Linked DNA regions of Homo sapiens. The protein of the gene in region 1 purifies or fractionates together with the protein of each later gene. This does not show direct contact. Each region holds a gene or a part of one and is shown on either strand. Other genes may lie near its edges. The genes, in order: OR14J1, PRSS21 and BST1.

What was found.
Region 2: the proteins of OR14J1 (region 1) and PRSS21 purify together in Homo sapiens (affinity purification with mass spectrometry; one large-scale study listed by BioGRID and IntAct). This does not show direct contact.
Region 3: the proteins of OR14J1 (region 1) and BST1 purify together in Homo sapiens (affinity purification with mass spectrometry; one large-scale study listed by BioGRID and IntAct). This does not show direct contact.

The regions. Positions count from the first base shown.
Region 1 is NC_000006.12:29,304,619-29,308,262, forward strand, and holds part of OR14J1 (olfactory receptor 14J1), read left to right. Parts: intron 1-2,043; 5' UTR 2,044-2,071; coding exon 2,072-3,037; 3' UTR 3,038-3,644. UniProt on the Homo sapiens protein: Odorant receptor.
Region 2 is NC_000016.10:2,815,947-2,820,079, reverse strand, and holds the start of PRSS21 (testisin isoform 1 preproprotein), read right to left. Parts: upstream 2,844-4,133; 5' UTR 2,812-2,843; coding exon 2,748-2,811; intron 2,651-2,747; coding exon 2,624-2,650; intron 2,280-2,623; coding exon 2,114-2,279; intron 1,404-2,113; coding exon 1,111-1,403; intron 1-1,110. UniProt on the Homo sapiens protein: Could regulate proteolytic events associated with testicular germ cell maturation.
Region 3 is NC_000004.12:15,701,487-15,705,878, forward strand, and holds the start of BST1 (ADP-ribosyl cyclase/cyclic ADP-ribose hydrolase 2 precursor), read left to right. Parts: upstream 1-1,578; 5' UTR 1,579-1,658; coding exon 1,659-1,846; intron 1,847-4,028; coding exon 4,029-4,155; intron 4,156-4,392. UniProt on the Homo sapiens protein: Catalyzes both the synthesis of cyclic ADP-beta-D-ribose (cADPR) from NAD(+), and its hydrolysis to ADP-D-ribose (ADPR).

The DNA.
Region 1 (3,644 bases):
ACTAGTGAAATTAAAATGATGAAATTTTCCATTTATTAATCAGATATAAAAATTATTATCTATGTCTTCAAAGAAAATAAAAATGAAAATAGGTTGGTGGGAGTTGTTGAGAGGAGAATATGGTGTGTGCATTCAAGTTTTTTCTTACGATTTTTCTCCTCCTTCCCTCTATGGAGAAACCTTAATGGGGAGGCTAAATGATAGAGGTTTTTCTTAGATTACATTAACAATGTGTATTAGAAGTGGTAAGTAACACGATGCTTTTGATTTTCAAGCCAGAGACAGTAAGTTTTAAAATATAAGTGAATTGCTTTCATCTATTCACATTTTATTTTAAATTCCAAAACTACCATCCAATATTTGGAGCAAGTTAAGCCAGGCATTAAGATTGGCAGCACTGGGGATTAAGCTATATCTTATGGAGGACCAGGAAAACTGTAGGAGCAAGAAAGCTAGAGAAACTTTGAAGAAAGTAACCCCTGTTTTCCTCTGATTCCTACTGCCATGAAGCAGGGGATGTGACCATCAGTGAGGGATTAAGGGCCCTTCCAGCCCTGAGACTGTTCCTTGTGGAAAAAAAAAATTTCCTAAAAATTAGTTTCAGTCAGTTCTCAAAATAAATTACAGCAAAATCAAAAAGATCTTGGTTTAAGTGATTTTTAACCTTTTCCTACAGCTTAGGGATTAATAAATGAAACAAACTACAATATCAGATGCAGTTACTTCAAAATCAGATGCATTAACTCATGTAACTTAGCCATTAAGTTTTTGTCTATATAGAACTGAAATCAATTATGTAGATATCCCGTTAAATAAGTATTTACTTAGAACCTATATGTTAGATGCCTTTGGTCAAGGGTGAAGAAATGGACAGAAATGATGAAGGAATAGTCTTTGTGCAGAAGAAACTCAGTGAAAATGATACTGATTGACCTTTCAACAAATGCACAGATTTAAAAAGAAAAAAAAGAGGCAAAAATTAGTTAGCAGAGTGATTCTGATACACAAAATAATTCTATGATGGTGTTGATTCTATAATAATAGCACATTTAAAATGAAATAGGAAAAGTTACATCATTTAATCCTCCTAACAATTGTTACATCTGGTATAGATTTTTTTTTTGTTTGGTTGGTTATTTTAAGAAATGGGCTCCCACTATCTAATATATTTCAAGTCCTAGAAAGAAATATATATATATATTTTTTCATTCAGGAACTCACAATGAGACACAGCACTAGAAAGATATATACTCTACTACCTAGCATTCTGCCTATCACATAGATTTTAGAAAATCTCTTTATTTCTTCAAATGGATTTGATTGAAAATGTCCAACCCCAAGTTGTCATAAGAATTTTGAGAATTAAACGTTCTTTGACGGTGAACCTTTGTCACTTAGTTGCAAGATCTCCAAAGCTCAGGATTCAATGCCTGATATCAGTGGCATCTGCATTTTACAATTTTGAGACATTTCATTTTTCAAAATTTCTATGAAAAGTTTATTACAATCAAATGTAATCTTTTTAAAGTGTTAAGAGCTTTTCAAAGGAAAAAATATGACTGTTCTTTGAGCTAACCTCTCTTCTAGATTAGCTTCTGAGCTGTTTCTAGATCTGCCTCTGAGCTGTTTCTAGATCCATTTGCAAGGTGGTATCAATAACTTCATGTTAGCTGGTTAGCAAAAGAAGCTATATAGTGCATCGTTGTAATACTAAGGCATCATATAGAAGATGTAATGAGATTGGTATGCTAGAATCATTTTCATTGACTTTATTGAAGGTAAAGACTTTATCATTTCCATCAATTTCTCCCTCTTTGACAATGCAAACTCTGCTCCAGAAAATGTTTATGACTTGTTGATCACATTCAGGGATTCTATTTCTGAATAATTGCTAAAACGTTTTTGAATTGAATATTAACTAATCGCAATGAAAATAAATTCATCTCATTTCAGTACCTCCTTGCTGAGGAATTGAGTTACTTGACACACAAATATATTAGATGTCATGCATTTTCTTCCTACTGTCTTTGGCTTCCTAAACAGAGTCACACTTGGTATCTTCAGAGAGACTATGGTCAATTTGACTTCAATGAGTGGATTCCTTCTTATGGGGTTTTCTGATGAGCGTAAGCTTCAGATTTTACATGCATTGGTATTTCTGGTGACATACCTGCTGGCCTTGACAGGCAACCTCCTCATTATCACCATCATTACCGTGGACCGTCGTCTCCATTCCCCCATGTATTACTTTTTAAAGCACCTCTCTCTTCTGGACCTCTGCTTCATCTCTGTCACAGTCCCCCAGTCCATTGCAAATTCACTTATGGGCAACGGTTACATTTCTCTTGTTCAGTGCATTCTTCAGGTTTTCTTCTTCATAGCTCTGGCCTCATCAGAAGTGGCCATTCTCACAGTGATGTCTTATGACAGGTACGCAGCAATCTGTCAACCACTTCATTATGAGACTATTATGGATCCCCGTGCCTGTAGGCATGCAGTGATAGCTGTGTGGATTGCTGGGGGCCTCTCTGGGCTCATGCATGCTGCCATTAACTTCTCCATACCTCTCTGTGGGAAGAGAGTCATTCACCAATTCTTCTGTGATGTTCCTCAGATGCTGAAACTAGCCTGTTCTTATGAATTCATTAATGAGATTGCACTGGCTGCATTCACAACGTCTGCAGCATTTATCTGTTTGATCTCCATTGTGCTCTCCTACATTCGCATCTTCTCTACAGTGCTGAGAATCCCATCAGCTGAGGGCCGGACCAAGGTCTTCTCCACCTGCCTACCACACCTATTTGTAGCCACCTTCTTTCTTTCAGCTGCAGGCTTTGAGTTTCTCAGACTGCCTTCTGATTCCTCATCGACTGTGGACCTTGTATTCTCCGTATTCTATACTGTGATACCTCCAACACTCAATCCAGTCATTTATAGCTTACGGAATGATTCCATGAAGGCAGCACTGAGGAAGATGCTGTCAAAGGAAGAGCTTCCTCAGAGAAAAATGTGCTTAAAAGCCATGTTTAAACTCTGAAGAACCATACAAATGAAAGGCATTGTTATTATGTTTCAGATTGGAAGAGAGGTGAATCTTATTTCTACCCAGAATGCTCTTCCAAGCTGTCTATTGTATATATTCCTCTCAAATATAATTCTTTAAAATTTAAGATGTTGTGCTCTAATAATATTAGCTTTCCTTCCTCCCTCCAATTCAAGTGTTATTTTAAGTCATCTTTGGAAAATTTTTCTGAAATGAAGGAGAAAGACAATTAGTTTGGAGTCTGGCCTGTATAATTTAAAACTTGTTATTAACAAATAAGGTTGGAGATAGATGAAGCTAACTGGGTTAATATTATGGTGCATATATGGTATTTCCAGTGGGCCTCCTAGTTTTCTATCCATATTAAGTATTCATATTAAGTTCTTTTACTATTATTACAGTGGTGATTTCAACAATTTATTCAGCCCCTAGTAAGTATCAAGTGCTTTATATATATACATTTTTTTGACTCAAGAAAACAACTCTTCTAGCTATAACATATTGTCCCCATTTTGCCAATAGGAACAATAAATTTAGGAAGGATTAGTTAATTTTCCTGAGATTTCTCAAATAAATGGTAGTTAAGCTCTGATTCAAATTA
Region 2 (4,133 bases), on another chromosome or scaffold:
CTGTGAATTGAGGCACAGCCTGGGGTTGGTGTGACCTGTCTACCCTGGGCTGGGGAGAGAGGGTGGCAGAGGCAGCCTGGCCGTGCCCCTGGCTCATATCCACTCGTGTTTGCAGCAAGGGTCCTTCTCAGGGAAGGCAAAGGATCCCTCCTCCAGAGGGAGGCGGCTCCAGTGCTGAGTTCCCCACTCCCAACTGCCGGGGTGTGACTTGGGGACATCCCTTACCCTCTCTAAGGCAAGGGGCCCTGACTTCTCCATTTACTAGTTCTTGGCAATTTCCATAACCCTCTCAGTTTTCTCATCTGTAAGATGGGTATAAGAACGTTACCAACTTCATTCCTAGGTGAGCTCCAGCAGGAGGAGAGGCCGCGCCTGGCTCACTGCTGGGCCCCCATGTCTAGAACAGTGCCAGGCACACAGCGTGTGCTCAAGGAACCACGTTTGTTATTGTTACTACTGTTGTGGGATGATGCAGGGACGGGCCAGACAGGGGAGCAGAGGGAAGGGATTCCTGATACAGGGAACACGCCCAGTCTGGGGCTGCCGGGGCTCCTCCGGATGCTGGGCCCACTTCTTTCAGGGCATGTGTGTTGGGGGACACGCAGGTGCCAGGGCAGGCCCACCAGAGGAACCCCCAGAGGGGTTTCCGTGGGAGCTGCGGTTGAGCATGGCTTGGAAGTTTCTGGGGAGAGGAATGGGCTCAGTGCTGCAGGAGAATCGGCCAGAGCTAGGGTGGGTGTGGGAGGCATGGAGAGGCAGCCCAGGAGCCTGATGCCTGGGGCATTGGTGAGCACTGGGGGAGGTGGAAAGATGCAGGAATAAATCCAAGTATGAGGTTTATGTCGCCAAGCCCTCCAGAACCCCTCCACCACCGCACCACCCACAGGCCTGCGCCAAACTGGCCTCCCTCTCACACTCTCCTTCTGGCCCCCACAGCCCCTGGAAGGGAGAGAACTGGGTGTTTGGTCCCTGCCCTGGCAGGTGAGGAGAGACTGCAAGCAAGAGGGGCATAGCCTGCACCCCCAGACCAAGCAGGGGGCTATTGTGCCTATGCAGGGGAACAGGTGAACAAAGACAGTTCCTCCCTGACCCGCCTGTCCCCAGCCTCACCCTCATCCTCTTTGATGTACCCCCAGCCAGTCACCCAGCAGTCTGTCCGGTTCTCAAACTCAAATGTGGAGGCCTGGAGACAGATGGGCTGGATGTGTTTAGTGTAGGTGACAGGTGCAGACAGCTTCACCAAGGCAATGTCATAGGGTGAATTCCCCAGGTAGCGAGGGCTCAGATAGATATTCGATACGAAGTAACGGGTGTAGTAGGCCTGCAGGCTCCAGAAGGATGGCATGGAAGTCAGCTGGCCAAACTGGACCATCCACCCGGAGGGATCACTAAGGTCACTATAGCTGGCAGAAGAGAAGAGAGCAGTCAGGGGCCCTGGATGGAGGGCTGGCTACCTGAGCACAACTGGGGTCCAGTGCAGGAGGGGAAACTGTGGTGTTGCTGCTACTTGCTAACACCCAGGGTCCCCTGCAGAAATGAAGGAGCCCAGACAGACCACAACCAAAGTCCTAGGACCTGCTCCTGCAGCAGAAGGGTGGGGTCTTGTCACCTCCCAGAGCTGTCCCAAGGAGCCTTGCATTGAGCCAAGGCCTCCAGGGGCACCCCCATGCAGCCCAAGGAGGAATGGGGAGATGCACCACGCCAATGTGGGATTGGCAGGATGGAGTCCACACAGCGGCCCGGGGGTGCTGGCCTTGGCTCAGTGCCCCACACTGTACCGCACCGTCCACCAGGAGGGGGGATGAGGGTGGGATGGTCAGTGGTGAACTTTGGGTTGAAAGAAAAAGGGAGAGAATACCCAAAAGTGTGTGGAAATGTTCTGGAAGAACATTCTGGAATAACCTGAACAGGGTTCCCTCCAGGAGACCCAAAGGGAACTGGAGTGGGTGTAACCGGCTGCAGCACAGCCTGGGGCTCAGGAGAACACCAGGCCGCATCCACGCACAACTTTCACGCCCAAGTCTGGCATCAGACCAGAGGTAAAGTTCGGTGGCACTCCCTCCAGCCCTGTTCCTGCCCGTCCCCGCACCCCTCCGTTCGCACCCCCACTCACGTTTCAAAGCAGTGCGCCGCCGTGAGTGCCCAGCGGTGGCTGAGCAGGCTCACTCCGCATACGTGGGAATCCCACAGGCGCAGGCTCCCCTGCCACGGCCAACGCCCGAGTTCGGCGTCCTCTCCACCCACGATGCGCGACGTGATGACCCGTCGGCCGCATGGTCCTCGGATGGTCAGAGGAACTGCTGAGCCGCGGGAGGCAGCCCCCCAAGCCCGACCTCTCCCTTTCTCCCCTTCAACCCCGTCCGGGAAAGCACGTTTTTGCCCACCCAGGGTCCCCTCGCGTGTGTGCAGCAGGAAGTAGGTGACACTGGAGATCCTCCCACGTGCTCTGCAGGGCCCGCCCATCCCCCTCCAGCGTCCGTTAGTTACTTTCCACGCCAACAGAGTTCTCGATCCCGGGGGCGGGGGCGAGAGAGCAGTAAAGGCCCCCCTCTACCCCCTCACCGCCCCCCGTCCACCTCGGCCCAACGGCCCTGGCAGGAATCGCGCGTCCTGGGCGCCCTACCTGATAACGGCGCCGCCTCCTGCGACTCTGCGGGAGACAAGAAGTGACTCCCCGCGGCCTCCACCTCCCGTCCTCCCCACCGCTCCCCCGCCTCCCCATCCCGCCAGCAGCGCCCCGAGCTCACCCGGCTTCCTGAGTCCAGCCCGAGCCAGCAGCAGCGCCAGCAGCAGCGCCCCGCGCGCGCCCATGGCCTCCTCTCCCGCGGCCTGACGCCCCCTCTGCCTCCTCTCGCGCCGGGCCCGGGGCGCCCCCTGGGGGCGGGGCGGGGTGGGAGCTCTGCCCTCTACTCCCAGCTTCACCCTCCTGGGCCCAAGGGCTGTTTGGGGCCTCTCATGCCTGGCAGCGCCCTGGCTTTCAGCCCCTAGGGGCGGGTCTTCAACCACACTTCTTGATGTGGCCCAGACCCGGTGGACCCCACAGTCCCTTTCTTGTCTGCAGCCCAGGGGTCCCGGCTGCCCTCTTGGTGACCCCGTCCTCCACCTACAACCTCCTCCAGCACCAAGGGCCTGGCCCTGAGCCAGGAGTCCCCTTAAAGCCTGGGGACCCCCTGAAGGCCGGGTGGGGCCTAGAGGCATGGCTGCTCCTTCATGGGACCTTCTTGGGAAAACAGTGGTCCTCGGCCCGTTCCACCCAGAATGGGGATCTCCCCAAGTCTCTGCCCAGGCTGTCCCCACTGCGGGCTCCCGCTGGGCTCTCTTCACTTCTCTGGAACAATTTTTTTTTTTTTTGAGATGGAGTTTCGCTCTTGTCGCCCAGGCTGGAGTGCATTGGCGTGATCCCAGCTCACTGCAACCTCCACCTCCTGGGTTCAAGCGATTCTCCTGCCTCAGCCTCCCAAGTAGCTGGGGTTACAGGCGCGCGCCAGCACACCTGGCTCATTTTTGTATTTTTAGTACAGACGGGGTTTCGCCATGTTAACCAGGCTGGTCTCCAACTCCTGACCTCAGGTAATCCGCCCACCTCGGCCTCTCAAAGTGCTGGGATTACAGGCATGAGCCACCGCGCCCAGCTGCAATTCCACTTCTGAGCATACACCCAAAAGAACTGAAAGGAAGGTCTTCAAGAGATATTTGTTTTTGGTTTTTTGGGGGGATTTAGTTTTGTTTGTTTTTGAGATGGAGTCTTGCTCCATCGCTCAGGCTGGAGTGCAGTGGTGCGATCTTGGCTCACTGCAACATCTGCCTCCTGGGTTCAAGTGATTCTCCTGTCTCAGCCTCCAGAGTAGCTGGGATTAGAGGCACCTGCCACCATGCTTAGCTAATTTTTGTATTTTTAGTAGAGATGGGGTTTCGCCATGTTGGCCAGGCTGGTCTTGAACTTCTGACCTCAGGTGATCTGCCCTCTGCGGCCTCCCAAAGTGCCAGGGTGAAGGTGTGAGCCACCCCACCCAGCCTTCAAGAGATATTTGTATACCCATGTTCATAGCAGGATTATTCACAGTAGCTGACATGAAAGCAACCCAAGAATCCATTGACCACTGAACAGATCAGTGAAAATGGGAATGTACAAC
Region 3 (4,392 bases), on another chromosome or scaffold:
CTGTCCTCCCTTGTGTTTATCAAGTGCTTGCCAGGCACTCAAAGTTCATTGCTGTCATTATTGTAAGAATTGAGGACTTGGGCCTCCACGTGGTATTCTATTAATACTGGCTCTTTTTTTTTTTTTTTTTGAGACGGAGTCTCACTCTGTTGCCCAGACTGGAGTGCAGTGGCCCGATCTCGGCTCACTGCGAGCTCTGCCTCCTGGGTTCACGCCGTTTTCCCGCCTCAGCCTCCCGAGTAGCTGGGACAACAGGCGCCCGCCACCGCGCCTGGCTAATCTTTTGTATTTTTAGTAGAGACGGGGTTTCACCGTGTTAGCAAGGATGGTCTCGATCTCTTGACCTCGTGATCCACCCGCCTCGGCCTCCCAAAGTGCTGGGATTACAGGTGTGAGCCACCGCGCCCGGCCAATCCTGGCTCTCTTAAACTGAACATCTCCAGGATTTTGCATCTATCAGGAAGGGATATTGTGACCTCTGACAAGTTACAGTCGGCGGTAGGTATCCATGGAGAATTGGTTCCAGGAACCTCCTGGATACCAAAATCCACAGATGCTCAAGGCCCTTATATTAAATGGTGTAGTATACAGTATTTGCACATCCTCTTCTATAATTCACGTCATCTCCAGATTCCTTGTAATATCAAGTACTATGTAATTGTTACATAAGTAGTTGTTACATTGGATTATTTAGGGAATGATGACAAGGAAAAAAAAGTCCGTACATGTTCCGTACAGATGCAAGCATTCTTTTTTTCCTCAAATGTTTCTCATCCGTGGTTAGCTGAATTTGGATGATGAATCCGCAAATCTGGAGGGCCGAACATGCTTAACTTCCCTGAGTTTATCCATTGCTAAAGCGAGAGAAATTACAAACTTAGCTAGGAAGGGTGTTGCGGAAAGTAATTAATATTATACTTGCAAAGTGCTTGGCACGTTGTTGTGGTTATTATTTCCTGAAAACAAACAAACACCACTTATTGGTTGGTGTGAAAGAGGGCATCTGTCAAAGTTGTCGTCCTTTGGAGCCAGAAAAGTATTTCTTCTGATGATGACTGACCTCTCCTCACCTCTCCTTCAACCTTGCGGCTTCTTTGGGGCTCCCTCCCCGTGGACAGCGGTCAAGATTAGCCTGGGCCACAGTGCACTGGTCCTGTCCTGGGTGATGTTCCAAGCTCACTCTTTTTTAATTTTATTTATTTATTAATTTTTTTTTTAGACAGAGTCTCACTCTGTCGCCCAGGGCTGGAGTGCAGTGGTGCAATCACTGCTCGCTGCAGCCTCGATCCCCTGGGGTCAAGCCTCCTCACATCTCACCTCGCAGGTAGCTGAGACTACAGATGCGCACCACCAGGACCAGCTAAGTTTTGTATTTTTTTGTAGAGAGGAGGTTTCTCACCTGTATGTTACTCAGGTTTGTCTCGAACTCCTATACTCAAGCGATCCGCCCGTCTAGGCCTCTCAAAGTGCTGGGATTACAGGCATGAGCCGCCGCGCCCCGCCCCACGCTCAGTCTTGAAATTGTCTGGAACGGGAAACGGCAAACAGCGAGATATCCGAGCGAGAGTCCCGCCCTGCATCAGTTTGCGGAACCGCCTTGGTAGAAGGAGAGAAGGGGAGTGGAGGAAGCACGGGACTGGAGGGACCAAAGTTCCCCGATGGCGGCCCAGGGGTGCGCGGCATCGCGGCTGCTCCAGCTGCTGCTGCAGCTTCTGCTTCTACTGTTGCTGCTGGCGGCGGGCGGGGCGCGCGCGCGGTGGCGCGGGGAGGGCACCAGCGCACACTTGCGGGACATCTTCCTGGGCCGCTGCGCCGAGTACCGCGCACTGCTGAGTCCCGAGCAGCGGTGAGGCAGTCGGCCGGGTGGAAGGGGAGCCGGAAAGAGGCAACGGTGGGGAGGGCCTGGGGAGGGGAAAACTGGCGCTAAAGTTCGGGGTGAGGGGGCAATGAGAGAGGCCTTGAGGGGAGAGGTGAGTGTGGAGACAGCGATGGTCCTGAACGATGGGGGCGAGTGAGGAGGGGGCTGTGAAGTGTGTCTGCAGGTGAGGGGTGCGCTGTGCGGGGTCTAGAGATGAGTGTGTGTGTGTGCGCGCACACACACACTGTAGAGGTGAGGGGTGTGTGCGTGTGTTCTAGAGGTGAGGGGGGTGTGTGTGTGCGCGCGCTCTAGAGGTGGGAGGTGTGTGTGTGCTCTAGAGGTGGATGTGTGTGTGTGTGCTCTAGAGGTGGGGGTGTGTGTGTGTGTGTGTGCTCTAGAGGTGAGGGGTGTGTGTGTGTGTTCTAAAGGTGAGATGTGTGTGTGTGTTCTAGAGGTAAGGGGTGTGTGTGTTCCAGAGGTGAGGTGTCTGTATGTGTGTTCTAGAGGTGAGGGGTGTGTGCATGTGTGTTCTAGAGGTGAAGGGGGTGTGTGTGCGTGCGCTCTAGAGGTGAGGGGTGTGTGTATTCTAGAGGTGAGGGGTGTGTGTGTTCTAGAAGTGAGGGGTGTGTGTGTTCTGGAGGTGAGATGTGTGTGTGTGTGTTCTAGAGGTGAGGGGTGCGTGCATGTGTTCTAGAGGTGTGTGTGTATCTGTGTTCTAGAGGTGAGGGGTGTGTGTGTGTAGTCTAGAGGTGACAGGTGTGTGTGTGTGGTCTATAGGTGAGGGATGTGTGTGTGGTCTAGAGGTGAGGGATGTGTGTGTGGTCTAGAGGTGAGGGGTGTGTGTGTTCTAGAGGTGAGGGGGTGTATGTGTATTCTAGAGCTGAGGAGAGTGTGTGTTCTAGAGATGAGGTGTGTATGTGTGTTCTAGAGGTGAGGGGTGTGTGTGTGTTCTGGAGTTGAGGGGTGTGTGTTCTAGAGGTGAGATGTGTGTGTTCTAGAGATGATGGGTGTGTGTGTTCTAGAAGTGAGAGGTGTGTGTGTTCTAGAGGTAAGGGATGTGTGTGTGTGTGTGTTCTAGAGGTGAGTTGTGTGTGTGTTCTAGAGGTGAGATGTGTGTGTGTTTGTTCTAGAGGTGAGGGGTGTGTGTGTGTAGTCTAGAGGTGACAGGTGTGTGTGTGTGGTCTATAGGTGAGGGATGTGTGTGTGGTCTAGAGGTGAGGGATGTGTGTGTGGTCTAGAGGTGAGAGGTGTGTGTGAGTGTGAAGGAGGGTGGAGAGGTATCCCTCTAGAAGTGAGGGTGGGGTAGAGGTGAACTGGGTAACAGCCCATTGCCACCCAGCAGATGTTTAGTCTGAATACTCAGAACCCAGAATGTGATCTCAGGTTGGAATTCCTTGAGTCCAGTCCTTCCAGAATTCAAATTTCAGATCCCCTAAATCTGGAGGATTTCTGAAGTTTGGGTCTTTCTTGCCAGTGCTGCATTTCTTACTGATTTTTGTTCCTTCTGTGGCCCCCCTTTTCTTATGTTTGTGATGTCTTTCTTGTGCTGATCATTTTTATTGTCGCACATTTCAGGCAAATAAGAAACAGCAGAGAACCACCTGTGTTACACACCACCCAGTATGAGAAACAAAGTTACAAATGCTATGGGAAATATTTTTTGAAAACTAGCATGGACCTCAAGAGGGGCTTGCACTGGAGGGTGCACCTGCTTTGCCAGAGGTGGAAGCCTTTTGCAGCATTGGGCCTCCCTCCTAACACTACACATCCTGCTGGCTGGCCTGGCCTCACCTGGTCCCCGAGCTCCACACTGGAACTGGACTATGAGACTGGCCCCACCGTTAGGTCTAAATGAAGAGGCACCTGCTGTATAGTTGACTGAATTTGTCACCTCCTGCTCGGTGCCATTTCTGCTTGTCTCCGTGAGCCTGGGGCAAGGCTGTATTCCTTAGCTCTGAGAAATCTGTGCAGTGCCTTCAGAGAGACAATTCCAGTGTCAGATTTCTGAATCTGTCACCTAAGCCATGACAATTCGTTGTCTTTTTTGTAAGCCTACTTCTGCAGTTACTATATGAAAAATCTCTTGTAAAGCTCTTAGACAAATGGGCATACTTCACAACACATTATGATGTGCATGTGTGTGTTCTTCCCAACTTGTACTTTTGCACAGGAACAAGAACTGCACAGCCATCTGGGAAGCCTTTAAAGTGGCGCTGGACAAGGATCCCTGCTCCGTGCTGCCCTCAGACTATGACCTTTTTATTAACTTGTCCAGGCACTCTATTCCCAGAGATAAGGTAACACCACAACCATCTTGGGTAAAACTGTGTTCTCTGTCTCTACAGAAATGGATGGTGCATGGGCCAGGTTGACATTAGCTGTCCCCTGCATCCTGCAATGTCACAGAAACATCAGGCAGCACACATAATGTGTGTGCTGAGCTCTCTGTGGGAAGCTAGCTTTGTTTCTGTATTAGTCCGTTGTCACATTGCTATAAAGAAATGCCTGAGACTGGGTAATTTACAAAGAAAAGA